2 separate regions of the Homo sapiens genome follow, and region 1 is linked to region 2. The links come from fine-mapping of genetic effects on gene expression. Tissue or cell type: whole blood. Region 2 holds a variant in brackets; the other region holds the start of a gene. All regions are shown on one strand. Distances are from middle to middle. Region 1 holds the start of OSBPL11 (oxysterol binding protein like 11). Region 2 overlaps OSBPL11 (oxysterol binding protein like 11).

Region 1 (16,471 bases), 37 kb before region 2:
AGTAGAGACGGGGGTTTCCCCATGTTCGTCAGGCTGGTCTCGAACTCTGGACCTCAGGTGATCCACTCACCTTGGCCTCCCAAAGTGCTGGGATTACAGGTGTGAACCGCAACGCCCGGTCTCGTTTTCTTTTTTTAAGAAATTCTGGGTTCACAACCTTATTCTCAGTGGGAACTTTTTTCCTGGCTGCATTCCTCCCTGTGTTGCCCTCCTCTCATGGGATTAGCACTGTTTCCCGCACCCCTGCTCCCTGCTACCCTGCCCCGAGTTTCTCTGTGGCCTATCCTCCCATTCATTCCAGCTGCGGGTTCTTGTGCTTCAAGGAAACTAATCATACTTCCCTTTCTTGCATGTCAGGGTTAGAGAGAGAAAATAAAAACAGGCAGCATTTGTTCTAGTGCACTAGACATCAGGCACTCTTTTTTTTTTTTTTTTTTTTTTTTTTTTTTTTTTTTTTGAGACAGGGTCTCGCTCTGTCACCCAGGTTAGCTAAAGTGCAATGGCACAGTCTTGGCTCACTGCAACCTCTGACTCAAGCAATCCTCCCTCCTCAGCTTACCTAGTAGCTGGGACTACAGGCACATGCCACCTCACCCAGCTAATTTTTTTTTTTTTTTTTGAGATGGAGTTTCGCTCTGTCACCCAGGCTGGAGTGCAGTGGTGCGATCTCAGCTCACTGCAACCTCCTTCTCCTGGGTTGAAGCAATTCTCATGCCTCAGCCTCCCGAGTAGCTGGGACTACAGGTGCATACCACCATGCCCGGCTAGTTTTTGTATTTGTAGTAGAGATGGAGTTTCACCATGTTGGCCAGGCTGGTCTCAAACTCCTGACTTCAAGTGATCCTCCCTTCTCGGCCTCTCAAAGTGCTGGGATTACAGGTGTGAGCCACCACTCCTGGCCCCATAATTTTTGTATTATTTTGTAGAGATGGGGTTTCACCATGTTGTCAAGTCTGATCTTGAATTTCTAGGCTCAAACAATTACCTGCCTTGGCCTCCCAAAGTGCTGGGATTACAGGTGTGAGCCATCATGCCTGGCCTTCTACACGTTTATTTCATCCTATTTTTCCATTTTACAGATGAAAAAACTGAGGCTTACCAAGGCAAGTAACCTCCCCAGGATCACGTGCACTAAGTGGCAGAGCCAGGATTTGAAGGCTTGTGCCAAAGTTCATGTTCTTAACCACTGTAATAAATTCATCCACTCATTCAACAAATGTGTCAAGCAATGGTCAAGTATTGGGGACACTGTAGTGGGGAAAAAAAAGAACCAAGTCTTTCTTCACAGAGCTTACATTCTAGTAAGGAGACAGACAATGCATAACAAAGCATATAATGTTGGCCAGGCGCAGTGGCTCAGGCCTGTAATCCCAGCCCTTTGGGAAGCCAAGGCGGGTGGATCACCTGAGGTCAGGAGTTCGAGACCAGCCTGGCCAGCATGGCAAAACCTCGCCTCTACTAAAAATACAAAAATTAGCCGGGCATGGTGGCGGGTGCCTGTAATCCCAGCTACTTGGGAGGCTGAGGCAGGAGAATGGCTTGAACCCAGGAGGCAGAGGTTGCAGTGAGGCAAGATCATGCCATCACACTCCAGCCTGGGCAACAGAGGAGACTCCCTCTCAGAAAAAAAAAAAAAAAAAAAAAAAAAAAATGTCAAGTGCTATGAAGAAAACTAAAGCACAGTAAAGGGATAGAGTGTAATGGGTAGGAACTGCTACTCTGTATAGAGTGGTCAGGGAAGGTCTCTAGGAGGAGATGACACTGAAGCAGACATGGCCTTAGGTATCTACATTTTCACACTGACACCCACAAACTGGGTGATTTCAGGTAATGTTCTTAGAATTCTACATTTATTGTACATACTCTGATGGGTCTCTTTTGATTAGAATTCCTAACTTGAAAACTCCATTGCATTTGGGAGACAAAGCTGGCATTCTCCCACAGAAATATGTTGAATGTCTTCAGAAATATGTTGTTTGATGTGTCTTCAGAGATGTCCCTAGCAGAAGGGTGCCCTCACCAAACACCAACATTCGTTTTACTTAGCAGGTAGCCCTACCCTTCTAAACAATGGCTAACAGTTGCTGAACACTTAGCTCATCCTGCGTCAGACCAGAGTCTAAGTGCCTTAAATGACATGAGTCGTTTCATTTAATGCTGACAACCCCTCAAAGAGAGAGACTGGCTTGGCTGCCATAGCAAAATACCATAGACTAGGTGGCTTAAACAACAGCAATTTATTTTTTCACAGTTCTGGCGGCTGATAGTCCAAGGTCAAGATACCAGCATGGTCAGTTTCTGATGGCGGCTCTTTTCCTAGGTTGCAGGTAGCTGTCTTCTCCAAGTGCCCTCACATGGCAGGGGTGGTGAGGGCTGGGGCATGGTACATGCTAGCTTTCTGGTGTCTCTTCTTACAAGGGCACTAATCCAATCATTAGGACCTCATCAAAACGTAAGTGTCTCCCAAAGGCCCTATCTCCAAATACCATTGCATAGAAGTTAGGCCTTCATTGTAGAAATTTGGGGAGTAACACAGTTACTCCTATTTTATAGGTGATGAAACAGGCACAAAGAGGTTAGGTAACTTGCCTAAGGTCACAGGGAGTGGAATCTGCGTGTCAGTCTGATAGAAGAGACCATGATCTTGACCACTATGCATACGCAGCTTCTCTCCATGGGCAGGGCACCCTCATCTCTTACCCAGCTAGACTGGTAGGGAAGGCACAGAGATGAAGTACACATCCTTCTTTGATGGCTTTCAAAAAAGTACATTTCTTTACCTTCCTTATTCAAACAATATGTCCTCCTCTCTCTTTGGATGCTGAATGGAACAGTCAAACTCAGATCCTATTGTAAAACATTTTGGTAAAAAGTTTTGGCTTTAAAACAAAGCAAAACAAAACATCTATCCTACCAACTCCCATGGCCATGACTCCACAAGCATTATAACCTTCTGATAATAATTTAGTTTATCTTGCTGAGTTTCTTACACCAAATGTGCTGACACTCAAACCTGAGTACTCTAGACTGTATTTTTTTTTTTTTTTTTGAGACAGAGTCTTGTTCTGTCATCCAGACTGAAATACACTGGTGTGATCTCAGTTCACTGCAGCCTCAACCTCCCGGGCTCAAGCAGTCCTCCCACCTCAGCCTCCCAAGTAGCTGGGACTGCAGGCATGTGCCACCACACTCAGCTCATTTTTGTTTTTTTACTAGAGACGAGTTTTGCCAGTTGCCCAGTGTGGTCTCAAACTCCTGAGCTCAAATGATCCGCCCTCCTTGGCCTCTCCCGGGTCCAAGCGATTCTCCTGCCTCAGCCTCCCGAGTAGCTGGGATTACAGGCATGAGCCACCACACCTGGATAATTTTGTATTTTTAGTAGAGACAGGGTTTCACCATGTTGGTCAGGCTGGTCTTGAACTCGCGACCTCAGGTGACCCGCCCGCCTCAGCCTCCCAAAGTGCTGGGATTACAGAAGTGAGCCACCACACCTGGCCAGTAATTTCTAATCTTATAGCTAATTTGTTAGTCCTGCAAAGGCAGACTGGTCCCCAGGCTAAAAGAGGGGTCTTTTCGGGAAAGGGCGATTATCAATTTTGTTTCAGAGTAAAACCATGAACTGAATTCCTTCCTAAAGTTAGTTTGGCCTGTGTCCAGGAATGAACAAGGACAGCTTAAAGGCTAGAAGCAAGATGGAGTCAGGTCTGATTTCTTTCACTGTCATAATTTCCTTAGTTATAATTTTGCAAAGGTAGTTTCACTATTGCAAATCCAGTCCATTTGCAGTACTGTAGCCCCATCCCAGACACAGCTTGGATCCATTTACTTCTCTCTATCCCCACTGCCACCACTCTAGTCCAAGCCGCTATGATCTCTGCCCTCATTCCCTATAATATCCTCCTACCTAGTCGCCCCGCTTCCTCTTTTTCTCCCACTAAAATTAATTCTCCATGCAGCTAGAGAATTTGTTTTTTAAAAAATAGCATTATCACAATATAATTCATCCACCATAAATTCACCCATTTAAAGTATACAATCGAGTTTTCATATACTTACAAGATTGTACAACCATCACTATTATCGAATTTTAGAACATTTTTATTACCCCCACCCCCAGAAAACCCCATACTCATTAGCAGTCATTTCCCATTCCTCCTTTCTCCTATCCCTAGCAACCACTCATCTACTTTCTATCTCGATGGATTTGCCTATTCTGGACATTTCACATAAATGGAAGCATACAGTATGTGACATTTTTGCGTCTTGCATCTTTCACTTAGAATCATGTTTTTTATATTTTTATCCCACAAGCTTTTTTCCACTTTTATATTTATGTATTTATTTAAAGAGACAGGTCTTCTATGTTGCCCAGGCTACCCTCAAACTCCTGGGCATAAGTGATTCCCCCCATCTCAGCTTCCCAAGTAGCTGGGACTACAGGTGTGCATGACCACACCTGGCTTTCCATTATTTGTCTTTGTTTTTTTTTTTTTTTTGAGATGGAGTCTCACTCTGTCACCCAGGCTGGAGTGGTACGATCTCAGCTTACTGCAACCTCCGCCTCCCAGGTTCAAGCAATTCTCCCGCCTCAGCCTCCAGAGTAGCTGGGATTACAGGTGTGCGCCACCATGCCCAGCTAATTTTTGTATTTTTAATAGAGATGGGGTTTCGCCCTGTTGGCCAGGCTGGTCTCGAACTCCTGACCTCAGGTGATCCACCAGCCTCAGCTGCCCAAAGTGCTGGGATTACAGGCGTGAACCACCGTGCCTGGCCTACATACCACAAATTCTTTACCCATTCATCTGTTCATGGACACAGGCTGGTTCCATATTTATGCTATTGTGATAGTCCTTCAGTAAACATGTGAGAGCAGGTATCCTTTTGATATGTTGATTTCTTTCCCTTTAGATAGATACTCAGTAGTGGGATTGCTGGGTTGTACGGTAGGTTTATTTATTTACTTTTTTTTTTTTGAGACAGAGTCTTGCTCTGTTGCCTGGGCTGGACTGCAGTGGCATAATCTCGGCTCACTGCAAGCTCCGCCTCCCAGGTTCATGCCATTCTCCTGCCTCAGCCTCCCGAGTAACTGGGACCACAGGCGCCCGCCACCACACCCGGCTAATTTTTTGTATTTTTAGTAGAGATGGGGTTTCACCGTGTTAGCCAGGATGGTCTCGATCTCCTAACCTCGTGATCTGCCCACCTCAGCCTCCCCAAGTGCTGGGATTACAGGAGTGAGCCACCATGCCCGGCCGGTTTTTGTTTTTTTCTTTCTTTCGTTGAGACTGAGTCTTGCTCTTGTTGTCCAGGCTGGAGTGCAGTGGCGCAATCTCAGCTTTTAGTAGGATGAGCCGCAGACAAAACCTCTCAGACACCGAGTTGTAGAAGGAAGGGCTTTATCCAGCTGGGAGCATCAGCAAGCTACTGCCTCAAAATCTGAGCTCCCCAAGTGCACAATTTCTGTCCCTTTTAAGGGCTCACGACACTAAAGATTTCACATGAAAGGGTCATGATTGATTTGAGCAAACAAGCGGTACATGACAGGGGCTGCATGTACCGGTGGTCAGAGAGAAACAGAACAGGGCAGGGAGTTTCACAATGTTCTGCTGCACAATGTCTGGAATCCATGAATAACATCGGTTTCTAAGTTATGAGTTGATTTTTAACTACTGAGTTTAGGCCAGGCAGGCCCAGGCCTGGTTTCCGGCCTGGCGCTGGGCTGCCTGTCTTTGGTTTTACTTCCTTGCTGTTTCTTTTTTTCTTAAAACAGGTACTGAGTATAAAACAATATGAGAGGGTCTCTCTCCTTCCTCAGGCTCACTGCAACGTCCGCCTCCCAGGCTCAAGTGATTCTTCTGTCTCAGCCTCTTAAGTAGCTGGGATTACGGGCACGCACCACCATGCCCGGTTAATTTTTGTATTTTTAGTTGAGAATGGGTTTCACCATGTTGGCCAGGCTGGTCTCGAACTCCTGACCTCAAGTGATCCGCCCACCTCGGCCTCCCAAAGTGCTGGGATTACAGGCGTGAGCCACTGTGCCCAGCCTCAAGTCATGTTATTATAAACTAAAATTAGCAATTAGGAGAGACTTTAGAAATCTACCCATGCACTCTTGTTTTACAAATCCAAAACCAAGGCCTAAACAAGGTGAAAGATTTGTCTGGGGTCTGGAAGAGTACCTAGCTCTGTTCTGAGATCTCTAATTTCCATGACAGCTTCTTTTTAATTTATAATAATGATTGGCTTTACTCCAATGTCATGCTTGCCCCCCCCCCACCCCAAGTAACTAAAACGTACAGATGTTTGCTTCGTTCTTGTACTTTCTTATTTTTGTAAGCTTTCTTCCTAAAATGCCTGGAACGGCCCCTCAAATGGAAGGCTAGGACGTGGTTAGGAAGGCGGGCACTCGGCCGGGCGCGGTGGCTCACGCCTGTAATCCCAGCACTTTGGGAGGCCGAGGCGGGCGGATCACGAGGTCAGGAGATCGAGACCATCCCGGCTAAAACGGTGAAACCCCGTCTCTACTAAAAATACAAAAAACTAGCCGGGCGTAGTGGCGGGTGCCTGTAGTCCCAGCTACTTGGGAGGCTGAGGCAGGAGAATGGCGTGAATCCGGGAGGCGGAGCTTGCAGTGAGCCGAGATCGCGCCACTGCACTCCAGCCTGGGCGACAGAGCGAGACTCCGTCTCAAAAAAAAAAAAAAAAAAAAGGAAGGCGGGCACTCACACACCAGAAGGGAACTCTCTAGTGCTGCTGGCTCCTTTGTTTCTTCCTCCTTCACTGTCCGGGTTCCTCGTTCCGTTGCGGCGCCCTCCCTCGCCCTCCCTCGCCCATCAGCCAGTCGCCCAGCTACCAGCTCCCAGAGCCTCCGCCTCCTTCAGGGACCCGCCGCCCTGACCCAAGATGGCGCCAGACGCTTCGGCTGTGAGGGAAGTGAGCTCACGCTACTCCGGAAGGGAAGGCGGGAAGGGAGCAGGGGGCGGGGGGTGGCTGACCCGCTGTGGGGCTGTGGGGCTGTGGGGCTGTGGGTGGGGCGGCGGCCGCGGCCCTGGCATTCGCGCTTGGGTCTGGAGATAGCGCGAGAGACTCACCGGCTCCTGGGAACCCAGTCGAGGGCCCGGGCCAGGGGCATAAGAGGAAGTTGTCCCGAGTGGCTCGCCTCTGGCCCTGGGAGAGGCGGCCCCGGGAGCCGGCGTCCCGCCCCCGGCGGCCTCATTCCCCGACCCTCCTCCCCGGCTGCGCGCGCCGGCCCTGGCTGTATCTCGGGGGCTGCGGCGGGAACTGCCGAGCGGGCTTGACTGGACGCACTGCCTGAGGACCTGCGGAGGAGACGAGGGAGCGCGGCGGGTCAGCCCCGAGGTTAGGCCGCGGGTCCCCTGTCCGTGGCGCTCCGTCCTTTTCCCAGCCGTCTTGGCTACAGAATCTGCGACCTCCCCACACTCCTTCTCTTTTGAGTATGTCACTTAAGTCTTCTCGCCGGATGCTTTTTCCTCCTTGCTTTTGCCGGAAAGGAGAGAGATACATGTGAAGGATATCTGTCCTCGTTGCTTCCCCTGCCCTCTCAAAAGTTTAACTTCTGTGGGAATGTGTATCTTCCTTTTCTGGACCATTTGACAGTCCCGCCCCAGCCGCCGTGTGATTTAGCAACCGGTATCATATTCAGATCAAATCTTAAAAAAAAAAAGTCACCTACAGAACTACAGAATTGTTCTCTCCCGCTCAAGAAGGGCAAGTGGACTTTGGCGTTAAGATGCAGGGGGGTGAACCAGTGTCCACAATGAAAGTCTCGGAGAGCGAAGGAAAGCTGGAGGGCCAGGCCACAGCGGTGACCCCGAACAAGAACAGCAGCTGTGGAGGTGGAATCAGTAGCAGCAGCAGCAGCCGCGGTGGCAGTGCAAAAGGCTGGCAGTACAGGTATGCTCCTTTCTCCAAAATTATTTCCCGAGGTGGAGGTAGGGGTGAATATGCCCTGGAGGCTGCATCCCGCAATTGTTGAAAGATAAAAGTTTTTTCACTGGCTTCCAGAAGCTACTGATACATCTCGTTTGGATCTGGGACCTCGCCTAAAAGATTTAATCCATTCATTTGTTCATTCAACAGGTATTTATGGAAGGCCTTTTGAGGAACACAGAAATGTATCCCTGAACTTCCTCTACAGTCAGAGAGTTAATGCTTCCTCAGATTTAATTCTGTACTCACTTCTGCTTTTGCCTATGTTGCAATTTATTTACAAGCCAGCTTTCTCTGATAGACTGCGAGGGCAGGAACTGTTTAACTCAGCTTTCTCGAGAGGGTAGCAAATACTGGTGCTCAAAACTTACTTGTCCAGAGCTTCTCCAGAATCAGAAAAGATTCTTGCCCTGAAGGTATTTGTGACTTGGAAAGGGGAATGTACATAAGTAATTGGAATGCAAGGACAAAGGTAGAGATCCTAATGCCTCTGATAAACTAAACCTGAGCCTGGAGATGTTCAGTTTGCGTTGCTCAGGCCACTTCAATGCTCTCTGTGTTGATGAGAAAGTCTATATTTGTTAATTTTCACTAATATGAATGAACAACTTAAGGAACAGGAGGAGAGTCCTGGAGAGGCAACAAGTTTTGTTTTTGTTTTTTCATATATGAAGTGTAGGGAGAAAGAACTATCCAGAACCTTAAGAATGAATGAAACAAACCAGCACATCCCATCGTATTGGAACTAAAGGGATGAATTCTTAAGTTTTGATTGACTCCTATGTGCCTAACTGTAGTCCTTTTTAGCCTTTGTGCTTATTTGTGCTTGTGAAATTTTTGTGAAACTTGGAAGGGATTAAAGCCAAGATTTTGTGAGGGATATACATTTATCATGAATAATATTCATATGTATGAAATATGCATGACTATATTAACATATAGAAGTGAAGTATAGAAGATTATAATTTTTTTTTTTTTTTTGAGGCAGAGTCTGGCTCTGTCACCCAGGCTGGAGTGTGGTGGCGCGATCTCGGCTCACTACCACCTCCACCTCCTGGGTTCAAGCGATTCTCGTGTCTCAGCCTCCCGAGTAGCTGGGATTACAGGCGTGCGCCACCACACCTGGCTAATTTTTGTATTTTTAGTAGAGATGGGGTTTCACCATGTTGGCCAGGCTGGTCTCGAACTCCTGACCTCAAGTGATCAGCCCTCCTCTGCTTCCCAAAGTGCCGGGATTACAGGCTTGAGCCACCGCGCCTGGCCAGAAGATAACTTTTTATTGGTAAGTGACTGTAGGATAAGAAGATATATTCAGTTAGTTTGAGAGGTCTAGGCCCGCTTTTGGAATCAGCATGATTTTTTTGTATGTGTGTGACCTGTGGCAGGGGCCGCGGGTCCCCTGTCCGTGGCGCTTCGTCCTGACCTGCTATGGGGCTGTGGGTGGGGCGCCGCCGCGGCCCTGGCATTCACATTTGGGTCTGGAGAGAGCCGGGAGTCTATTAAGTTGGTTGTGAGGTGCCTTCGAATGTTATTTTTGGTTTACAACTTTCTTGATGATATTGTTTGCAGCACAATGGTTTTTAATTTTCATGAAGTCTAATGAGTTTTTTCTTCTCTTGTTATAGTTTTGTGTCACATCTAAAAAAACATTGTGAAGTTTAAGATGACAAAGATTTACACTTATGTGTTTGTCTAGGAGTTTTGTTTTAGTGCTTATGTTTAGGTTTCTGATGCATTTTTAGTTCATTTTTCTTTATGATCATTTTTTTTTCTTTTGTGAAACATCTACATATGTGTTTTTTATACATTTCCTGTTAGGTCTTAATATTTTTCTTTTTAATATGCTTGATATCTCTTATTAAAATGTCAACATTAAATACCAATATTCCTTTAAAAATATTTTGTTGATTTTTCTTCTTTTCAATAGGTAAAGGGATGAGTATATACAATGAAACATTTCCCTTACATACTTTCCCAGCCACTCGGTTTCCTTCTCTGGAAATGCTATCTTTTACTGATTTCTTGACTATAATTCCAGAGAAATTTATATTAGTTCTTTATTTAATAAACATGTGATGACATGCAATATATTTTAATTTTGTATAAATTCTTTGCTATACTTTCTGCAAATATTTCACTAGTCCTCAGATTTAATTTCATTTTTTTTGACACACAGAAAACTTTTAAGTCAGACCTCTTATTCCTCTTTTCCATCCATTTCTAATTATAAAAAGTAACTTTTATAAGTACTTGGTTTTGGCTGGCACTGTAGCTCACCCAAAGTGTTGATCCTTAGCACTTTGGGGCGCTGAGGTGGGAGCATTACTTGAGCCCAGCAGTTTGAGACTAGCCTGGGCAACATAGAGAGACCCCATCTCTACAAAAAATTAAAAAATTAGCCAGGCATGGTGGCATGCCTACTCAGGAGGCTGAGGTGGAAGGATTGCTTGAGTTCTAGGCTCCAGTGAGCTGTGATTGTGCCACTGCACTCAAGCCTGGGTGACAGAGCAAGACCCTGTCTCAAAAATAGTTAAATAAATAGTTGTTTTCATGAAGTTTTAAAATAATTTGGTAGTTTTACAATTTAACTTTTTTTTTTGAGACAAGGTCTCTCTCTGTCTCCCAGGGTTGAGTGTGGTGTCTCCATCATAGCTCACTGCAGCCTTGAACTGCTAGGCTCAAGTGATCCTCCTATTCAGCTTCTGGAATAGCTGGGACTACAGGTGTACACCACCATGCCCAGCTAATTTTAAAATTTTTTTCTAGAGGCAGGATCTTGCGATGTTGCCCAGGCTCATATTTAACTTTTTAATCTATCTGGAATTTATTTTGAAATACAGTGTGAGATAGTGTATCTACTACTGCATTACAAATTACCCCCAAATTTAATATATTAGCAGCATTTATTATTTCATAGTGTCTTTGGGTCAGGAATCTCAGTGCAGCTTAGCTGGGTCTTCTGGCTCTGAGTCTTTCTTAAGACTGAACTGGGAAGGATTCATTTCCTAGCTGATTCATGAGACTCTTGGTGCAATTCAGTTCCTTTTGGCCCATTGGACAAAAAACTCAGTTCCTCATGAACTGATGGCCAGAGACCTCCTTTGTTCACTGGCCACATGGGCTTCTTCACAGAGCATCTTACAACTTGGCAGCTTGTTTCTTGAGAATGAGGAGGTAAGAGGACTAGAGAGTGCTACCTGGAGAGAAGTTAACAGTCTTTTGTAACCTAAGCACTGAGGTGAATTCACATCACTTTTCACTGTTCTTCAGAAACAAGTCCCACACAAGGGTGTGAGAATACCAGCAGGTGGGGATTATTGGGATTTATGCCAGAAAATGCCTAGGCAGTTAATATAATAGACTCAAGATTGTAAAGACTAGAGGGGAAAACGGACTTGGGGAGTCAAATTATGTATCTGGTTTTAGGTATGTCCAGCTAAAGTTGCCAGAATGTTTAAGTGTCTTATCTAGCCAGTCCTCAGAGATATGGAGTATTGGAAATGTAGATAATTGTCTTTACATTATCCAGAATGTTTTCACATCTGTTATCACATTTAATCCTCCCAACTCTGGAGGAAGATACAGCATTATTATTCCTGTTTTGCAGTTGAAGAAAACCTAAGTCTAAATGACAATATAGACTTAGGCAATATAGTACATGAAGTTATATATTGCATGTAGCTAAGGTTACATAGCTAGTAAGTGGGAGAACTTTTATTTCTAGATAGATATTTACATAGAGGTATTAAAAGTAGATAAACTCTCTAAAAGGAATGAATAATTATTGATAATAACTAGTTTGGTACATGGTTGGTTTTATGGTTTACTCATGTTCTAACTTATGTAGCAAATATTTTTGAGTCTCTACTATGTCTGAAGCACTCTTTTATTAATGCCAAATTAATGTGCACACCCAAAACAACGAAAGAATGAATTCTAAGGCTTATTTTAGGAGGATCATCAAAATAATCAGGAAAAGGAAGGGCATCAGTGGCATTTACAAAACAATCTCATGATGACCTTTTGAAAAAAAAAATTTTTTTTTTGAGACAGAGTCTGGTCCTCTTGTGCAGGCTGGAGTGCGGTGGCAGATCTTAGCTCACTGCAACCTCTGCCTCCCAGGTTCAAGTCCAAGCGATTCTCCTGCCTCAGCTTCCCAAGTAGCTGGGACCACAGGCACTTGCCACCACACCCGGCTGATTTTTGTATTTTTAGTAGAGATGAGGTTTCACCATGTTGGCCAGGCTGGTCTCAAACTCCTGACCTCAAGTGATCCACCCACTTCGGCCTCCTGAAGTACTAGGATTACAGGCGTGAGCCACCGTGCCTGGCCCTTTTGAAAAATTAAACTTAAGAACTTAATTTATTAGATTAGCCTTGTATTTTCTTGTTTCCAGAGTAATTTATATTCATATGATGTGAGCTTTCTTTACCATTTACAGAGAAGATAGATTTCCCAGTTCTGGGTCTTTCCTTCCTTTTTCATAGTGAATATTCACACTTTATAAAATATGCATGTTTTCATTATTTTTGTATTCTTCATGTCAGCTTGTAGAGAAATTCACAAATCTGCAAATATGCCACCTGCTTATTAAAATGGGCAGAAGAGAACTATTCAAAAGAGGAACTGAAAGACAAACCAGGGTGTTTGATGGCCTGCTTTTTTTTAAAATTTTGAGCTCCTCACTGGCTAATCATATTAACAGATAAATCTATTTTCCTCATTAGCAAACAGCTATACTTTTCAGTAAATGTGTAAAAGTCTGCAAATGTGTAGTATAGAAATAATTTTTGTGGTCAGACCACAATAATTTTGTGGTTTCTTCCACTGTCAATACTATTATAAGGAAAAGTGCCTGTTCGCGGATGGGAAAATGAGATTGGCCTAAATATAAATGAATGTTCATGGTCTTAGAGGTTTTACCTCTTCTTCTGAGTTGATTTGAAGAAAAAGTCATAAATGTCTGCTTTTTTTTTTTTTTTCCTCTGCAGGGGTTAAAGGAAAATTGATACATATTTCTACACTCTAGTTTTTGTTTTCTGTATCTGACATCTGCTATAGATGCTGGTAAAAACAAGAGAAAGATAATTGTAGGCATGTAACTGGAAACTATAAAATATTATTCCAAAATCTAGTTAAAAATATACCAAGTCTTGAGGAGCAAGAGTTGGTTTATTAATAATGTGCTGTGATTTCTTAGTTTCCTTACATTTTTGCACTACATATCTTTTCTGTTTTGTTTTTTTTTTTTTTTTTTGAGATGGAGTTTCACTCTTGTTGCCCAGGCTAGAGCACAATGGTGCAATCTTGGCTCACCACAACCTCTGCCTCCTGGGTTCAAGCGATTCTTGTGCCTCAGTCTCCCGAGTAGCTGGGTACAGGCAGGTGCCACCCGGCTAATTCTTATATTTTTGGTAGAGACGGGGTTCCACCATGTTGGCCAGGCTGATTTCGAACTCCTGACCTCAGGCGATCTGCCTGCCTAGGCCTCTTAAAGTACTGGGATTACAGGCGTGAGCCACCGCACCCGGCTTTGTCTACATTTCTAATCATTTGTCATAGATGGGATACCTAAAAGTGAAATTCTAGGGCCAAAGAGTGCTAACATTTTTAAGACTCTTGGCAGGAGGGAGGACCCCTCTCTTGACTTTATACTTTTTGTCATAGATTAAAATACAGTTAGACTTTATTTTGTTTGCGATTTTGAGTATACAGTCTGCGAGTTGAATTTTTTGGGGAGGAGGTGGGCAGGTTACTGAGAATTGCCTCATGGCTTCATAGAAAAATTCTGTTTCTTTCTTCCCATTGCTTAATTCATTCAGCAAATAAACATTATATCCCAGGCTACACACTAGCTGTTGCGAGGAATATCTCTTAATGTCATTAGCCTTTTCCTCAGCTAAGCAAGCCACTCCCCGCTTCATGCTATTTCTTATCCAGAGAATGGACCAAAGTGCTAAGCCTTTTGGGAGGATACTTTTTGCCTAGTTGAAAGTATGGATTTTGACATGTGACTTGCCTGGTACCTCATATTTACTGACTACAACTTGGATTCCTGCCTGTAGTTAAATACCTTAAGGTATCGCTATTTGGCTTTTCCAGGAAAATAGAACCAATAGGTAGATATATATAGAGAGAGATTATGAGGAATTGGCTCATATGACTGTGGAGCCTGAGAAATCCCATAGCTCAGTTGTCTACAAGCTGGAGAACCTCTTGACATTATCGTCAACCTCTGATGTTACTTCCAGCTGACTGCCCTCATCATTCCATTAAACTGTTATCTCTGGGTTTTAAGTCTAATGAGTCTTCTCAGTCTTTGTCATATCTTACTTTATCAGTAGCACTGAACTTCTCTTTTTTTTTTTTTTTTTTTTTGAGACAGGGTCTTACTCTGACGCCCAGCCTGGAGTACAGTGGCAGGATCTTGGCTCAGTGAAACCTCCGCCTCCCAGTTTCAAGCAATTCTCCTGCCTCAGCCTCCCAAGTAGCTGGGACTACAGGCATGCACCACCACGCCCAGCTAATTTTTGTATTTTTAGTAGAGATAGGGTTTTACCATGTTGGCTAGGCTGGTTTTGAACTCCTGACCTCAAGTGATCCACCCACCTCAGCCTCCCAAAGTGCTGGGATTATAGGCATGAGCCACTGTGCCTGGCCTGAGACAGAGTCTTGCTCTGTTTCCCAGGCTGGAGTGCAATGGCACGATTGCAGCTCCCTGCAGCCTCCACTTCCTGGGCTCAAGCAATCCTCCCATCTCAGTGTCCTGAGTAGCTGGGATTACAGGTGTGTGCCACCCTGCCTGGCTAATTTTTAATTTTTTTTGTAGAGACAGGATCTCACTGTGATGCCCAGGCTGGTCTCAAACTCCTGGCTCAAGTGATCCTCCCAAAGTGCTGGGATTACAGGTGTGAGTGAAGGCACCTGCCCACTGAATATTCTTGACCACAGACTTATCTTGAAACACTTTCTCTGGTTTCTGTCTTTCCATACTCCTAGTTTTCTTCCCACTACTCAGTTGTTCCTGATTTCTTCTCTGTATTCCCCTTGCCCTTAAAACTTTTCCTTAGAGATCTCTCTTAGACCCTGCCCATCTCTTGCCATTTCGTAATACTTCCTGAGTGACCTTATTTACTGCTGTAACTTCAAATACCAGTTATATGCTTATATGCTGATGACTACCAAGCCCTAATCATGCTGCCTTACTGGATATCTCCCTGTATAGTCCTGCAGGTTCATTAAATTTAACATCTTAAGTTGGAACAAATCCAAAATTTCTCTGCGATCCCTATCTCAGTGAAGGCATTAGTTATCCACCCAGTTGTTCCAGCTGGAAATCTGAGTGTTGCTCTTGTCCTTTCTCTCTCACTTTCATTCTTTCTGTCTCACTTCACATCTAATCAGTCATCAAATCTAGTCATTTCAGCCTTCTCACTCACTACTGAATCCTCTGTATTTGTTTAATGCCTTTTTTATTTGTATGGCAGCTGCAAATGTAGTCCCATTGTGTGTCTTTTCCAGTAGCAGGAACCCATGTTACTGCCTTTTTCTTCAAGGAGATATATTTCTCTTAGATTAGATTATAGATTTGAGATGGAGAGTTATTAGTTATTGCCTTTTTGATTTTCTTATGCTTTTCAATGGTTTTTCAGAGTGCTGTGCTTTAGTAGGTATTGAGTAATTGTTTTGAGTTGAAAGGATTTGAAACTGTTTAAAAGGTAGCTTAATTTTAAAAACTTTTATCTATCTTAAGTCTGATAAAGAAAGGTTGAGAAATAAGTATATTGCCGGGCACGGTGGCTCACGCCTATAATCCCAGCACTTTGGGAAGCCGAGGCAGGCGGATCACGAGGTCAGGAGTTCGAGACCAGCCTGACCAACATGATGAAACCCCGTCTCTACTACAAATAGAAAAAGTAGCCAGGCATGGTGGCACACACGCACCTGTACTCCCAGCTACTCGGGAGGCTGAGGCAGGAGAATCACTTGAACACAGCAGGCGGAGGTTGTAGTGAGCCAAGATTGCACCACTGCTCTCCAGCCTGGGTGACAGAGCGAGACTCCATCTCAAAAAAAAAAAAAAGAAATATGTATGTTATAGTAATGGAGATTAAAGAATTGAAGCAGTTATTTTTAAGATATTTAAGAGAAAATGAGTATCAAACTAAACACAATATAATAAAGCCACTTAGCACAGTTTAATCAGTTATTTTTATAGACTATCAGCTTCCACTACTAATCCCAATTAAATGTTAACAAGTTTAAAAGATTAGAAATATACCCAGTTTCTTGAGCAGTGAAGTTTTTGGAGGACTGAAGAAGAAATTAACTTTATCATAGCTTATTTTTTAGTGTATTAGTCTGTTTTGGACCATCACTTCTATTTTATAGAACACAAAATAGTATAATATAATCAGATATGTGGTATGTTCCCACTTCAGTAGCTAGATTTTATTAATATTAACAGACACACATTAAAAATATTCTATAAAAATTTGCACATTTTATTTTATTTACTGT
Region 2 (16,471 bases):
TATTTTATATTTCTTCTCACTCTGTTGCCCAGGCGGGAGTGCAGTGGCACCATCATGGCTCACTGCAGCTCAACCTCCCAGGCTCATGCTATTCTCCTGCTTTAGCCCCCCAAGTAGCTAGGACTACAGGCACATGCCACCATGGCTGGCTAATTCCTTTTAGTTTTTGTAGAGATGGAGTCTGTCTGTGTTGCCCAGGCTTACTTAATTTTTTAAAAGTATGTCAAGTAACACAGCACTAGATATTAGATGCTCAATAAATACTTGATTAATTAAATACTAAATTTCATTTGTGGCCGGGCATGGTGGCTCACGCCTGTAATCCCAGCACTTTGGGATGCGGAGTCAGGCAGATCACCTGAGGTCAGGAGTTCAAGACCAGCCTGGCCAACATGGTGAAACTCCGTCTCTACCAAAAATACAAAAATTAGCCAGGCATGGTGGTGAGCACCTGTAGTCCCAGCTACCCGGGAGGCTGAGGCAGGATAATCACTTGAACCTGGGAGGTGGAGGTTGCAGTGAGCTGAGATTGCACCACTGCACTCCAGCATGGGCAATAGAGCAAGACTCTGTCTCAAAAAAAAAAAAAAAGGATAATACATTTCCTACTCCTACATTTCTGCTGTAGTAGTCTGAGCATCCCTTATTATAGCACTCTATAACCAAGCTTCTGTGAAACCTAGATCAGCAACTGAAATCAAATGGAACATTTTCCATTATTGATTAGGCATAGAATCCACTTTGTTAAACTAGTCGAGGGTAACAAGAGACATTTGAATCATTAACCGAGAAGATGACAGGTCTCCAAATGTGACCACTGTCTTCACTGGGTCAGTTATTATTTATTCAGTAGAAGAGTCTTTCAGTTTAAGTTGTATGGGGCTTTTTAAAAAATGATTTCGAAAAAGGACATGTATTTGCAATTCTTAAATTAGATCCGGGGGATTATTTTGATTGGTTAGACAATTGTTGCTGAGAGTAAGACTCGATCCCAAATTGAAACAAATCTTACTGTTTCACAGTCCCAGACTCCTCCTGTAGCTGTGCCTCTCTAAAGCCTAATTGCATATTTTTTAATCAGTAGAGGGACAAAGACAACAAATCAACTGTTAGGTTGGGAATATACTTCGTGATTCACAGACTTGTCCAAGAAGTAAATTCAGTCCTATTCAGGGTTGATTTCTTTTAAATAGTATCTGATATCAAGTTGCAAGTTGCTCTGTTGTAAAATACCCAATCATGGTGCTCATGCTAATGAGATATAAGTGGCTGTCTTGCAGGGTCTCTTAACAGGTTTAATTGCTTTTAGGCTTGTAGGCTCAAAACAAAATTGTTAAAATCCACATCTGCCGAACTTTCTAGATTATGAGCAAGTTTCAGCGAAAGTTTTCTCTTACTCCATCAGGAACGACAATCGAGTGGTTAGAACCAAAGATATCTTTATCAAACCACTATAAAAATGGAGCTGACCAGCCCTTTGCAACTGATCAGAGTAAGCCGGTGGCAGTCCCAGAAGAGCAGCCTGTTGCAGAATCTGGACTATTAGCGAGGGTAAGGTAATATAAAAATATGATTTTGATGTGAAAAATTAGGTATCACTGAAAAAGGGTCAGTTTTCTTTTCATTGTCAGCTCATGCACATCAACTTAACACCTGAGCAACACTCTTGAAGATTCTAAAACATTTTAAACTGCATTGTTTTTGAAGAGGTCTCTTATATTAAACTTGTTGAATTTTCCAGGTTAAATTATATGCCCTTTTAACTTTTAGTTTACTTTTGCTTGATAAAAATATATTTTAAAAATTGAAATTTATGTTTTTCTTTTTCTAGAAAATAACTTATCTAATGAGATTTGCACAATGTTTGTCTCTTATGTTTCTTAACCTATTATCTTAACATTATTTATTATTAAGTTTATAATCTTAAAAGTTGAGTCTTTTTCATAGTAAGCACTTTACCAAGCCAGTTGTTTCAAGTATTACCCTACTTAAAATAGCACATAATCTTAGGGTTTATATTTTTATAAACTATTATTCATTTCACATTTCTTAGAAGCTGAAGAGTGTTTTATTCTATTCATAATCTACCACTGTAACAAATCATATTGATATTTTTGCCTTTTGTGTTCACATCTGTTATTTTAAGCTATTTTTACTTGATAAGCATTTTCCTATGTTGTACTGGTCTGTATAATTAAAGCTTGAAATAGTCTATTGAGTTAATGTCCCTATTGTTGAATATCTAGATTGTTTGGAGGGTTTTTTTTTTAATTATAAATAACACTTTATTATCTTGTTTCCAACTTTTTCTCCTTTTTTTTTGAGATGGAGTTTCGCTCTTATTGCCCAGGCTGGAGTGCAATGGCACAATCTCAGCTCACCGCAACCTCCGCCTCCGGGGTTCCAGTGATTCTCCTGCCTCAACCTCCCTAGTAGCTGGGATTACAGGCATGCGCCACCATGCCCAGCTAATTTTGTATTTTTAGTAGAGAAGGGGTTTCTCCATGTTGGTCAGGCTGGTCTCGAACTCTGGACCTCAGGTGATCTACCCACCTCAGCCTCCCAAAATGCTGGGATTACAGGTGTGAGCTACCGCACCCGGCCTTCTCCTATTTTTTTTCTTAGGTTATCTCTTTAAGTTATATTACCAAGTAGCATTACTGAGTCAAGAGTAATGCATAGTTTATGGTACTTTATATATTCGTAAATTACTTCTTTAAAGAAATATATGGCACAGGGACTTCCAAAGTTGGCAAAAGTTTTGGCTTGATAAGACAGGCATTGCAGGCAAGGGTTGGCAGGGGAGAAGAAAAAACAATAATGTATAAAATGCTTATTTCTCTGTAGCTGTTTGACTGGCTTATTTGTAGAAACAGCAGTTAGTAAGTATTTATTAAGCTTAGTATATGGCAAGTACAATGCTAAGAATTAGAGGAGAAGCAAAAATTAGAAGATACAGGTTTTTCACTGAAGAGACTTATAATCTGCTTGGAGTCACAACATATACACTAAAATGAGATGATAATATAAAGCAATATATTTTTTTCTTAATTGATACCATGTAGGCTATTGGGATAGGGGCATTCAGAGAAAGGAAGAAGACATATTGAGTCGGGTACATGAGAAATGCTTTGGGGAGAAAGTGGGATTGGAATTGGGCTTTGAAAGGAGACAGGATTTGAAGGGAGGAGGAAGAGAATGGGAATCTCAAGATGAAGGACTAACACTAGCAAGGATCCTAAGGCATGTGTGTTTATTGAAGAGAAAGCTTGCCTGGTAATTTTGAACCCAGGATATGCCATTCACTGACATGTGAACCAATTAATTAACCACTCTTAGCTTCAACTTCCTCATCGGTAAGGTAGGGATAATATACTACCTTGTAAGATCCTTATGAGGATAAAATGAATTTAGTAGAACACCTGGCTTATGGGAAATGATCACAGTATTTTTGGATTTTACAACTCTGAATGGCACTATTCATGTTGTACTCTGTGGAATGAAGCTTCCAGGAGCACTGCTCCATAGAATGCAGTGTAAATTGTGCCTCCAAATAACATAAAAATAATGCAGAAGGGTTTAGTCTTAATGACAATAGCGTCATGATCATGGGTAAGAATGTACTATGTTTAAGAAGATTGGTACATGATACGACTTGGAATAAAATGTGAATAGAAGGATATGGAAGTAGACATGAAGGCAAATGAATAGATTATGTGCATTTCAAATGAAAAATCAATTGGATTTGTGACTGACTGGATATAGGTTTGGATCAAGTCAAGTCCCAAGTTTTTGACTCTCAGTGGTTAGATAAAATTGTATTGTCATTCACAAAGGAAAATTAGGAAGAAAGAGTCTTTTGAGAAAAAAGGTTTAGTATAATTATAAACATGTAAATTTTACAAGAGAGGAGGTTATGTGATTATAAATGTGTATAAAAAACAATTAAGGGGCCGGGTGTGGTGGCTCATGCCTATAATCCCAGCACTTTGGGAGGCCAAGGCAAGTGGATCACTTGAGGTCAGGAATTTGAGACCAGCCTGGCCAACATGGCTAAACCTCATCTCTACTAAAAACACAAAAATTAGCCAGGTGTGGTGGTGTATGCCTGTAGTCCCAGCTACTTGGGAGGGTGAGGCAGGAGAATCGCTTGAACCCAGGAGGTGGAGGTTGTAGTGAGCTAACACCACTGCACTCCAGCCCAGGCAACAGAGCAAGACCCTGTTTCAAAAAGAAAAAAGCAGTTAAGGGACCGGGCATGGTGGTGGGCACCTGTAATCCCAGCACTTTGAGAGGCCAAAGCGGGTGGATCGCTCGAGGTCAGGAGCTTGAGACCAGCCTGGCCAACATGGTGAAACTCCATCTCTACTAAAAATACAAAAATGAGCTGGATGCAGTGGTGCATGCCTGTAATCCCAGCGACTCTGGAGGCTGGAGGAGACATTCTTCACTCTTTTTGAAAAATTCTATTTTCCCCCCAAAAAAGAAAAATAGTTCTTATGTGATATATATGGCAAAACTGCAATATGTTCAACATCAGCAATAATGGGGCTCTCTGAAGGAAATTTATACCATGGACAAATAGTTGTATTTCTGAAAGATTTTTGCCCATACTCAGATTCACTTAGGTCAAATACAAATGTCTTCAAGTCTGATATTTATTGTTTTGTTCTCAATGGATATGAATAGGTAGTTAAAATACTAGACTTTTGCTTTGTTTTCCATCAAGGAGCCTGAAGAAATAAATGCAGATGATGAGATAGAGGATACATGTGACCACAAAGAGGATGACCTGGGAGCTGTAGAAGAACAACGTAGTGTCATCCTACATCTCTTGTCACAGCTTAAGCTGGGCATGGATTTAACAAGAGTAAGTAATGGCATAAGCTGGCTATGGAGATTGTTAAGGGCTGTACCAGTAATTGTTCATGTTTATGTCAGGACTTTTTATTTATTTACTTTTTAAATTTTAATTTTAATTTTTTTTGAGATGGAGTTTTGCTCTTGTTGCCCAGGCTGGAGTGCAATGGTGCGATCTCGGCTCACTGCAACCTCCACTTCCTGGGTTCAGGCAATTCTCTTGCCTCAGCCTCCTGGGTAGCTGGGATTACAGGTGCCCACCACCATGCCCAGCTAATTTTTTGTATTTTTGGTAGAGATGGGGTTTCACCATGTTGGCCAGGCGGGTCTCGAGCTCCTGACCTCGTGATCCTCCCACCTCGGCCTCCCAAAGAGCTGGGATTACAGGCGTGAGCCATTGCACCTGGCCGGTCTTTTTATTTTTTGTGATTTTTATTTTTTATGATTTTTTTTTTTTAGTCTCCTGATCAGTATTTTTTATTTTCATAAAAAATGGCTTTCTTGGCCAGGCACAGTGGCTCATGCCTATAATCAAGCTGGCCTTGAACTCCTGATCTCAAATGATCCACTCTCCTCGGGAGGCCGAGGTGAAACCCGTCTCAGGAGGCTGAGACAGGTGGATCAATTGAGGTCAGAAGTTCAAGACCAACGTGGTGAAACCCCAACTCAGGAGGCTGAGGTGGGCAGATCACTTTAGGTCAGGAGTTCAAGACCAGCCTGGCCAACGTGGCAAAACCCTGTCTCAGGAGATGGCTGAGGTGGGCGGATCACTTGAGGTCAGGAGTTTGGGACCAGCCTGGCCAATGTGGTGAAACCCCGTCTCTACTAAAAATACAAAAATTAGCCGGGCATGGTGGCCTGTAGTCCAGCTACTTGGGAAGCTGAGGTGGGAGGATCGCTTGATCCTGGGTGGTGGAGGTTGCAGTGAGCTGAGATTGTGCCACTGCGCTCCAGTCTGGGCAACAGAACGAGACTCCATCACTAAAAAAAAAGGCTTTCTGGCTTTCTTGTGCAGCAGGAAGTTGTCTGGCAAGTAATACCAATTGTCTTTGAGTTTCAGAACAAAATTAAAGAGTCCATTGGTATACTATACTGGAAAATGTAGAGAAAATTACGTAATCCTACAGAACTATGAAAAGCATTGACACTTCCACTTACTTCCCACATGCAGATCATACATTTGGGGTATTATCTATAACAGGAGTCTGCAGACTTTTTCTGTAAAGGGCCAGATAGTAAATATTTGCAGCTATGTGGACATAGGTCTCTGTTGTAGCTATTCAACTCTGCCTTTGTAGTATAAAAACAGCCATAGACAATATACTGGATTGGGCATGGCTGTATTCCAACAAAACTTCATTTACTAAAACAGGAGGCCAGATTTAACCCAAAGACTACAGTTTGCAGATTCCTGGCCAAAAGCTTTGCTTCTTTAAGTGTGATCTGAAGACCAGTAGCATCACCATCACCTGGAAACTTGTTAGGAATGCAGAATCTCAGGCCCCAGTCCCAGACTTAGTGGACCAGAATCTGCATTTTAATAAGATCCCTGACGATTCATATATACATTAAAGTTTGAGAAGCACTAATCTGTAGTTTTTAATTTTAGGCCAGTTTTCTCTGTTCCCAGTTTAACTAGTGTGCCTTAATTTGTCTTAACAATTAATCCATGACATTAATTTAAAAAGCCAATCAAGTTCAAAACCTATATATGTCAAATATTTATTACTGTAGGATTATTTACTTTGAATTACTGATGAAACAATTTTACATTAGTATGGAATTTCAAAATTGACTTTAGGAGGTAGATGTCAATTGGAGATTTTTTTGATGCCATTGAAGGTAGATTTAAAACATTGTTTCCAACGAACTGTTCATCTGAAAATATAACTTAAATAGAAAGCATAAGAAGCAGACATTTTAGGAATTAATAAAGAAACCCATAAAGCTTTCATTATTTATATAGCTTCAGTATTTCAACTGGGAATCATTTCTGTTCTAGAAATATTTTCATATTAATGGTTCAGAAAAGACCTCATAGTTGTGAAATTGGTTAAAAATGAATAGTCTTCTGAAGGGGTTGTTTGGTATTAGTTAGCATGGTGTTTGCAGTCCCTGAGTAGATTTGCATTTATAAGGCACAAGAGCAGCATTGAGGTTTATGAGGCATAAGAGCATTTGAAAAAAGTGTGCTGTGATAGTAATCCACATGGTAGAAGTTCTCTCATGGCATGAATAAGTGCATATACTATACTTTCTCTACATTTGTACCTTGTTGATTAAAAAGTTGTATGTGGCTGGGTGTGGTGGCTCATGCCTGTAATCGCAGCACTTTAGGAGGCCAAGGCAGGTGGATTACATGAGC[T/C]CAAGAGTTCGAGACCAGCCTAGCCAACATGGCGAAACCCTGTCTGTACCAAAAAATACAAAAATTAGCTGGGCATGGTGGTGCACGACTGCAGTCCCAGCTACCATGTGGCTGAGATACAAGAATTGCTTGAACCTGGGAAGTGGAGGTTGCAGTGAGCCAAGATTGTGCCACTGCCAGCCTGGTCAACGGAGCGAGACCCTGTCTCAAAAAAAAAAAAAAAAAAAAAAAAGAAAGTTGTATGTGTTACACATATATTACATTAACATTAACCAACCACAAATTAAGAACATCTATACAACATTTAATGGAATGATACTTTTCAGGCAATATTAAAGAGCCTGGTGGCTGGGTGCCATGGCTCACACCTATAATTCCAACACTTTGGGAAGCTGAGGCGGGTGGATCACTTGAAGTCAGGAGTTGGAGACCAGCCTGGCCAACATGGTGAAACCCCGTCTCTACTAAAAACAAATTAGCCGAGCATGGTGGTGCACGCCTGTAATCTCAGCTGCTCAGGAGGTTGAGGCAGGAGAACCGCTTGAACCCAGGAGGCAGAGGTTACAGTAAGCTGAGGTTGCGCCACTGCACTCTAGCCTGGGCGACAGAGCTAGATTCTGTCTCAAAAAAAATAAACAAATAAATAAAAATAAAGAGCCTGGTGACTAAACTGCAGTCACAGCTACCTCTTATCTAACAATAACACTTAATTAACAAATATTTACTGGGCCCCTGTTATATTCCAGACACTGTGCTAGGTCTTGGGACAGGAACAAATAAGATAACCATGGTCCTAGCCTTCATGTTGTGAATAAGTAATATGCATTTTCCTACTGTTCATTTTGTTTCTTTTTAAATAATATTATGAAATTATATAAACACAAAATTTTAGAAAACTAAAGAAAATCTATCATTTTACTACCCTAACATAACAGAGCTCTCACTTTTATCTTTCTTCACATTGTCATAGTTTATATGGAATTTTGTTTTACTTCCTTTTTTCAGTTAATTTTTGTGTGTATGAAATGTGTTAAACACACAGAAGACTGAATGGTATACATATAAACATTCAAAGAAAAAAGATAAAATGAATACCCATGTATCTACCTCTGACATTAAGTTGTAGAACACTGCCTGAACTTGGAATCTCTGAGTTCCCCTCTAATTTATAGTCCTCTACTTTTTCCTCCATAAAACAATTTACTTGACTTGTGTGTTAATTATCCCTCTACTTTTTGCTATAGTTTTACTGCTTTTTTGTACTCCATAATGATGTTTAGGAAAAAATGAATAGCTAACATAAGCTTAGCATAAGGAAAGGACTGTGTTGCCATTTGTAGAAAGCAGCTCCCAGAAAAAGACAAGTTAAACATTTGAGTCTCTGGCTTTAGCTTCTTATAAGTTATTGAGAAAGTTTAGAAGAGCCCTTTCTTGTGAAATTATAAGGCAAAGTTGTGAGTCCTGTAAAATATACATCCCAGAGCATTTGGTGTGAGTCAGCTACAGGAGGAATGTGGGCTGGGGGAGTGAGCTGCTCAGTATTTTCAGTTTCAAAGCAAACTGTGACCTACCTCCAACTCTGAGGAATAGATTGAAGTCAGAAGGCTTCTTTCGGGGAAATGAGCATCTTCAGCCAATCCAGACAGCAGAACATGGAGAGGAGACTAAGAACTTCACCAGCAGATAGTCAACACAAGCCAAATACAGATACACTTGGGATCAGTTTCACTAGGCTATTTTATCCTGAGGTTTGAAAAGATGATACAATGGCAGCATGAAGCATGTGGATGACAGTCTTCAGTATGTCTGTCTCTTGAGTCACATCACTCTAATCTGGACCAGTATTTCCTTTAGCATTCTCTTTGGCTAATCCGTTTACTGTATCCGTTTCTTCTTTCTTGGTTGCCTCTCATTTTGTTGGAATATATCCTCCATTAATTTCTCAGAAAGATTTGTAAGAAGCGAATGTGAAAATGTGTGTCTGAAATGTCTGTGTTGCCCTCGTGTTTCATTGCTGGTTTAGATAGAATTTGTTACTTGTGGCCAGGTGCAGTGGCTCACGCCTGTAATCCCAGCACTTTGGGAGGCCAAAGCAGGCAGATCACTTGAGGCCAGGAGTTTGAGACCAGCCTGGCCAACATGGCAAAATCCCCTCTACTAAAAGTACAAAAATTAGCCAGGCATGGTGGCACATGCCTGTAATCCCAGCCATTCAGGAGGCTGAGGCACAGGAATCACTTGAACCTGGGAGGTGGAGGTTGCAGTGAGCTGAGATGACGCCACTGCACTCCAGCCTGGGTGACAGAGCGAGACTCCATCTCAAAAAAAAAAAGATAATATCTCCGTGCTGCAGGGTTCTAATGAAAAGACTGAAGTCATTCTGATTCCTGATCTTTTGTTTGTGACTTGTTTTGTATGTTCTTCTCTCCAAAATTGTTTAGAATCTTCTCTTTATCATGTCTTGGTATTGTGACATTGATGTAGGTTTCTTTTATCCATTGTATCTGGGCACTTGGTGGGCCTTTTCAGTGTGACAACTCATGTTTTTGAGTTCTCTGAAATTTTCTTGAATTATTTCTTTGATGATTGTATTAGGGTTCCTAGAAGGACAGAAATAAGAGGATAGATGTATATATAAAGGGGAGTTTATTAAGGAATATTGACTCATACAGTCACAAGGTAAGGTCTCATAATAGGCCATCTGCAAGCTGAGGAGCAGGGAATCCAGTCCGAGTCCCCAAACCTCAAAAGTAGGGAAGCCAGCAGTGCAGCTTTCAGTCTGTGGTTGAAGGTCCAAGAGTCCAAAAGCGAAGAACTTGGAGTCCGATGTTCAAGGGCAGGAAGCATCCAGCAGGGGAGAAAGATGTAGGCCAGAAGACTCAGCAAGTCTAGTCCTTCCATATTCCCCTGCTAGCTTTTATCCTAGCAGCTGATTAGATGGTGCCCACACAGATTGAGGGTAGGTCTGCCTCTCCCAATCCACTGACTCAAATGTTAATCCCCTTTGGCAACACCCTCAGACGCACCCAAGAACAGTACTTTGTATCCTTCAATCCAATCAAGTTGACACTCAATATTAACCATCACAATGATTTTTCTTTCTTCTATTTTGTTTGTTTGTTTGTTTGTTTTCTCTGAAATCCTTATTATATGGCCATTGAACTTCCTGGTCTGGTCTTTTATTGTTCTCTCATACTTTTCTTTTTCTCTCTTTGTCTGTCTTCTGTGTTATGGGAGATTTCCTCGCCTTTTATCTTTTAACTCTTCTTTTGACTTTTAATTATTGTCATGTTTTTAAATTTTCTGATTTTTTTAAAAAGCATTCTTGTATGTATATAATATCTTCTTAATTCTCTGAAGATATTATTTTTTATTTTTGTTTTTTCCCCTCCTTTGAGGTTTCTGTTTCCTCCAAATCTGTTTCTTTATTTTGTTCTTTATATTCCTAGTTAGAGGTTTTCTCAGAAATCAGATCTTCTGCTCACAATTAAGTTTAGGGAAACTAAAATCTGATTTTAAGCTTTAACACGTAGGTGGCGCCTATGTTTTTCATTGTCCCATAATCTGGATGGGCCATTTGTTGGGAGACTTGGTGTCAGTATCATTAGGTTTTTCTTCTAGGTTTAGTCAAATTTCCCAGAAGAAAAATTTTTTCATCTCATACTTGGTGACTCCAAAAGGAGTTAAAAAGGAGAAGAAGGCTGCATGAGAGAGGGTGTTAATAGCTAACGTTTAGTTTATATGGAGTTATTAAATGCCCTTGTTATGTATCACTTGGTATCCACTCTCTTAGAATTCCTTGCTATTCTCCAGTCTAGAGAATAGACCACCTTGTTTATCCAGAGGCTAAACCTCTAGACTTTGAGGTCCAAGAGGGTAGTTACTAACAGTGTGGAGTTGGGGGTTTGAGTTAGGCATCTAATTGCTTTCCATACAGATTTTACTCAGTTATTTTTATTTTATCATTTCTGTGAATCCCCAGATCCAGAGGTACCTAGTGCGATCAGCTCCTGAGCCTTTTTAGGAATCTGTGCATATTGTAACCTACTGCCTAAGTTTCAGCTTTCTAGTTAGGAACTCTCAAAATTTTGTTGTGTTTTGTCTACTTTCCTGGTATCTCTGGGTTTGTCTTTATATGAAGTTAATTTAATTTCAGTGGAATTTCGACAGAAAGTGAAATTAAGATGCATGTGTTCAATTCACCAGCTGAACCTGCAACATCCACTGTCTTTTGTATTATTTGTATCATCTTCAAAACCGTCTTTTTAAATGACTATAATAGTCAATTAAATGAAAGTTCCCTACTTCAGTTAGCTAGAACCGTAGTTTAAAATGCAGGTTGTTCTAATTATTTTTTCACATTGCTTTTCCTTCATTCAATTATTTATTTCCTAAGGCTAGATTCTTGGAATGTAAGTACTAGGCTAAATGGGTAAGAACATCTTAGGGCTCTTGAAAAATATTGCCAGATTTTGCTTTCTCAGACGTTTAAACCATTTTGCAGTGCCTCTCCCAACTCTGCTTTAAGTAAAATATTTATCTTTCTTACACTTACCTGGTTTTAAGTATAAAAATTTCTCTTATTGGAAATAGTTCTCTTGTGCTTAAGATTAAATATATGTTGCAGTTTTTGCTTCGGTCTGTGATCTCTTTAGTCTGTTCTCAGGGAATGACATTTATTGACTTTTCTCATGTCTTGGTCATTCATCTACAATTTAATTTTAACATAGGAAAGGAGCAAAGGCATGGCTAACATTTACTTTGAGTTTTAACACCATTTCCCTGGTGATACTTTTATCCAGTCTAGAAGTTTGAGGATTTTTTTGAAGTTTCTTCTGACTCTCTTGAATTTATGTTTAGTCTTGGGCAGATTTGCCTGTCCTTTTAAGAATGCTTTTTTGTTGTTGTTGTTAAGACAGGGTCTCACTCTGTTGCTCAGGTACAAGTGCAGTGGCGCAGTCATGGCTCATTGTAGCCTTGACCTCCCAGGTGATCCTCCCACCTCAGCCTCCTGAGCAGCTGGGACCACAGGCACAAGGCACCATGCCCAGCTAATTTTTGTAACTTTTGTAGAGACACGGTTCCACTATGTTGCCTCAGCTGGTTTCGAACTCCTGTGCTGAAACAATCCTCCCAACTTGGCCTCCCAAAGTGCTGTGATTATAGGCATGAGCCACTGCGCCTGGCCAAGAATGCTTATTTTTTAATGTGACTGAATACTTTTTCTTTGTGACTTTGTTTTTAATACCCATCTAGAATGAAATGTTTTCAGAGAGAGAATAGTTGTCTACAGATATGCTACACATGGATTAAATTTCCCCTCTTTCATTGATTGTTGTTTTAGGTGGTGCTTCCTACATTTATCCTAGAGAAGCGTTCCTTGCTGGAAATGTATGCAGACTTTATGTCTCATCCAGACCTATTTATAGCCATCACTAATGGAGCCACAGCTGAGGACAGAATGATTCGCTTTGTTGAGTACTACCTTACCTCATTTCATGAAGGCCGTAAGGGAGCCATTGCTAAAAAACCATACAATCCTATCATTGGAGAAACATTTCACTGTTCCTGGAAGATGCCAAAAAGCGAGGTAGCATCCAGTGTTTTTAGCAGTTCTTCCACCCAGGGAGTCACAAATCATGCTCCTTTATCGGGGGAGTCTTTGACCCAGGTGGGATCAGACTGTTACACAGTCAGATTTGTTGCTGAGCAGGTTTCTCATCATCCTCCAGTCTCAGGATTTTATGCAGAATGTACAGAGAGGAAGATGTGTGTAAATGCGCATGTCTGGACTAAGAGCAAGTTCTTAGGCATGTCAATAGGCGTGACAATGGTTGGAGAAGGTAAGTAGAAAAATTATTTTATATATATATATATATATACACACACACATATATATATGTATTTTTTTTTCCAAGCAGGAATGAAAGTTTACTTTAAAAGGCTTTAGAACAGGAAAGAAAGGAAAGTTCGCTTGGGAGAAACCCAAGCAGGCACGTGAAGGTCAAGTGCCTGTTTTATAATTTTTAATATCAAACTACAATCTTAAATTTAGGAACCCCAGATAAATATTAACTCTAAGTTTAAAATATTATGTTACTTTTTCGCTCCAATTTCTAGAGTGTTCCAGAATGCTTCTTGTGGGGATGGGAGGAGTATATCTATGAACTAATGTAAATTCTCTTTTTAAATTATTTTTTTCTGATTTTAAATATTTCTTTTCGTTTGTTTTCTTTTCTTTTTTTTGAGATGGAGTCTCGCTCTGTCATCCAGGCTGGAGTGCAATGGTGCTATCTCCGCTCACTGCAAACTCCGCCTCCCAGGTTCAAGCGATTCTCCTGCCTCAGACTCACGAGTAGCTGGGATTATGGCGCCTGCCACCATGCCACCACACCCAGCTAATTTTTATATTGTTAGTAGAGATGGGGGGTTTCACCATGTTGGTTAGGCTGGTCTCAAACTCCTGACCTCTGATGATCCACCCACCTCGGCCTCCCAAAGTGATGGGATTACAGGCATGAGCCACCGTGCCTGGCGATTTTAAATATTTCTTATCAAATATTTGGAAAACTAGAAAAGTACAAAGCAGAAAATAAAAGCTTCTGTAATGCCTGCATCCATATATATATAAATTTAATATTTTATACTTTTTCTGTGTGTGTATGTTCATACTTTTAGCCTTATAAAATTAGAATTAATAATATATATAGTTTTGAGTCCTGCTTTTTAAATTAAATATATTCATTTTATCATGTCATTGATAAAACATATTTTAATGACTGCATAATATTCTATGAAATAGATTTTCCATCCTTTTTTTTAATTTAATTTAATTTAATTTTTTTTTTTTTTTTTTTTTAGAAACAGGGTCTTGCTCTGTTGCCCAGGCTGAAGTGCAGTGGCATGGTCATAACTAACTGCAGCCTTGACCTACTCGGCTCAAGCCATCCTCCTGCCTCAGCCTCCCAAGTAGCTAGGACTACAGGCATGCACCACCATGCTAGGCTAATTTTTTTAATTTTTATTTTTAGAGACAGGGTCTCAATATGTTGCCCAGGCTGGTCATGAACTCCTGGGCTCAAGTGATCCTTTGGCCTCCACCTCCAGGCATTAGCCTGTAATCTCAGCACTTTAGGAGATGGAGGCCAGAGGTGCTATTCATAGAATATTTAGGTGCTATTCATAGAATATTTAAAAATATATGCTGATAAAAGTTAATTCTACTTCATCAGAAGATTATGAAAAAATTATTTTTGGAAATGCAGAGTTTTTTGACCAAGAATATGAAACAAAAACAAAAATCTCCACAGAAATTATTGAAGAGTTAATGAAAATATAATGATAGGAAAAAAATACCACTTTTATGTTAAAGGAAAACTCTTATGCAAAGAACACTATGCTCTGAATGTCATCTTACAGTGTAAGCATGGCATCATTAAGCCAATCTAATATTTTGAGATTGTGTTATAGTCGTTATGAAGAAAGTATCCTCTTTTTCAGTTTTCCTCATTTTTAAGTTCTGTTGTAATATGTCTTACCAATTTCCAAATAATATTTCAAGTTAATTACAACTTTTATAACATTAGAAAGTACTCTCTTTTTTTTTTTTTGTTTGTTGTGTGTGTGTGTGTGTGTGTGTGTGTGTGTGTGTGACACGGTCTAGCTGTGTCGCCCAGGTTGAAGTGCAGTGGGGCCATCTTGGCTCACTGCAATCTCTGCCTCCCAGGCTCAGGCCATCCTCCCACCCCAGCTTCCACAGTAGCTGGGATTACAGGCGTGCGCCACCATGCCCAACCAATTTTTGTATTTTTTGTAAAGATGAGATTTTTGCCATGTTGCCCAAGCTGGTCTCAAACTTGTGAGCTCAAGTGATCCACCCACCCCAGCTTCCCAAAGTTCTGGGATTACAGTTGTGAGCTACTACACCCAGCTGAAATCATTCATATTTTATTAGTTAAAAACAAAAAGTTTGCTACCCTCCATCATAAGCTCCGTCACGTTAGCCTTAAGCACTTCATAGATCAACTTGCTTATTTTATAAGTGAAAAAAAACTGAAGTCTAGAGATGATGAGACATGTCTAAGGTCATAAATGTTAAGGAATAGACACATTTAGAACCATATTCTTTGACACTCTCCCAAAGGACAGTTAATCTTATCAGTTCATGTAACAGTAAGAATCTGGAAATGGTAGCCTCTCACACTGCAAGAAAGGAAGTACTTCAAGAAGTGAAGAAAAGCCCAGCACAGTGGCTCACACCTGTAATCTCAACACTTTGGTGGGCCGAGGTGGAAGGATAGCTTGAACCCAGGAGTTTGAGACCAGACTGGGCAACATAATGAGACCCTATCTCTACAAAAATTTAAAAAAAAAAATTAACTGGGCATGTTGGCTTGCTTCTATAATCTCAGGTACTTGGGAGACTGAGGTGGCAGGATCACTTGAGCTCAGGAAATTGAGGCAGCAGTGAGCCATGATCGTGCCACTGTACTCCAGCCTGCATGACAGAGGAGAACCTTGTCTCAAATGTAAAATTTTTTAAAAAGAAATGGAGAAAAGCATTCATGTCTTAACCATGCTTTAATTATAAAGGAGGTATGTAAATAATTTTTTATTGTGCTGCTACATATTAATGGAATATATTGGAAATTTAATGGTTATCGATATCCTCAACAGAAAGTAAGTAAAAGTCAGGAATGGGGCTGGGCGTGGTGACTCACGCCTGTAATCCCAGCACTTTGGGAGCCCGAGGTGGGTGGATTAGCTGAGGTCAGGAGTTCGAGACCAGCCTGGCCAACATGGGGAAACCCCGTCTCTATTAAAAATACAAAGAAAGTAGCCAGGCATAGTAGCAGGCACCTGTAATCCCAACTACTTGGGAGGCTGAGGCAGGAGAATTGCTTGAACCCGGGAGGCAGAAGTTACATTGAGCTGAGGTCGTGCCATTGCACTCCAGCCTGGGCATCAAGAGTGAAACTCCATTTCAAAAAAAAAAAGACTTAAAATATATACAAGTATGTTGTCTGTCATCTGACAGCTCTCATGTATAAATATAGCCAGAACCATGTTTTTTGGGAAATGGCTCAATAAACCTTAATTTATTGTTGCCCTTTGTGAAGACTATTAAGAGCAATACAAAAAAAAAAAATAGTTGATGTTGCTTTGTGTAGGCTACTTTAGAATCTCATTTTGTCTATTTGCTTATCCTAAAAATTAACTATATTAAAATATTTATCATATACTTGC

Evidence for each region.
Region 1: it holds the start of OSBPL11, and the variant in region 2 is fine-mapped to the expression of OSBPL11 in whole blood (TOPMed, PIP above 0.99).

The regions. Positions count from the first base shown.
Region 1 is chr3:125,586,080-125,602,550 of GRCh38, reverse strand. It overlaps OSBPL11 (oxysterol binding protein like 11), which reads left to right and starts at 7,054. Exons shown (of 13, transcript NM_022776.5): 1 at 7,054-7,914. The coding sequence starts at 7,751. RefSeq lists a silencer at 6,937-7,346 and enhancers at 7,447-7,506, 8,467-8,526.
Region 2 is chr3:125,548,778-125,565,248 of GRCh38, reverse strand. OSBPL11 (oxysterol binding protein like 11) reads left to right here. Exons shown (of 13, transcript NM_022776.5): 7 at 1,406-1,551; 8 at 4,730-4,870; 9 at 12,570-13,068. Among named protein-coding and RNA genes, the nearest start is that of SNX4, 37 kb to the right of the region's middle. The variant T/C (reference allele first, on the strand shown) is at 7,226.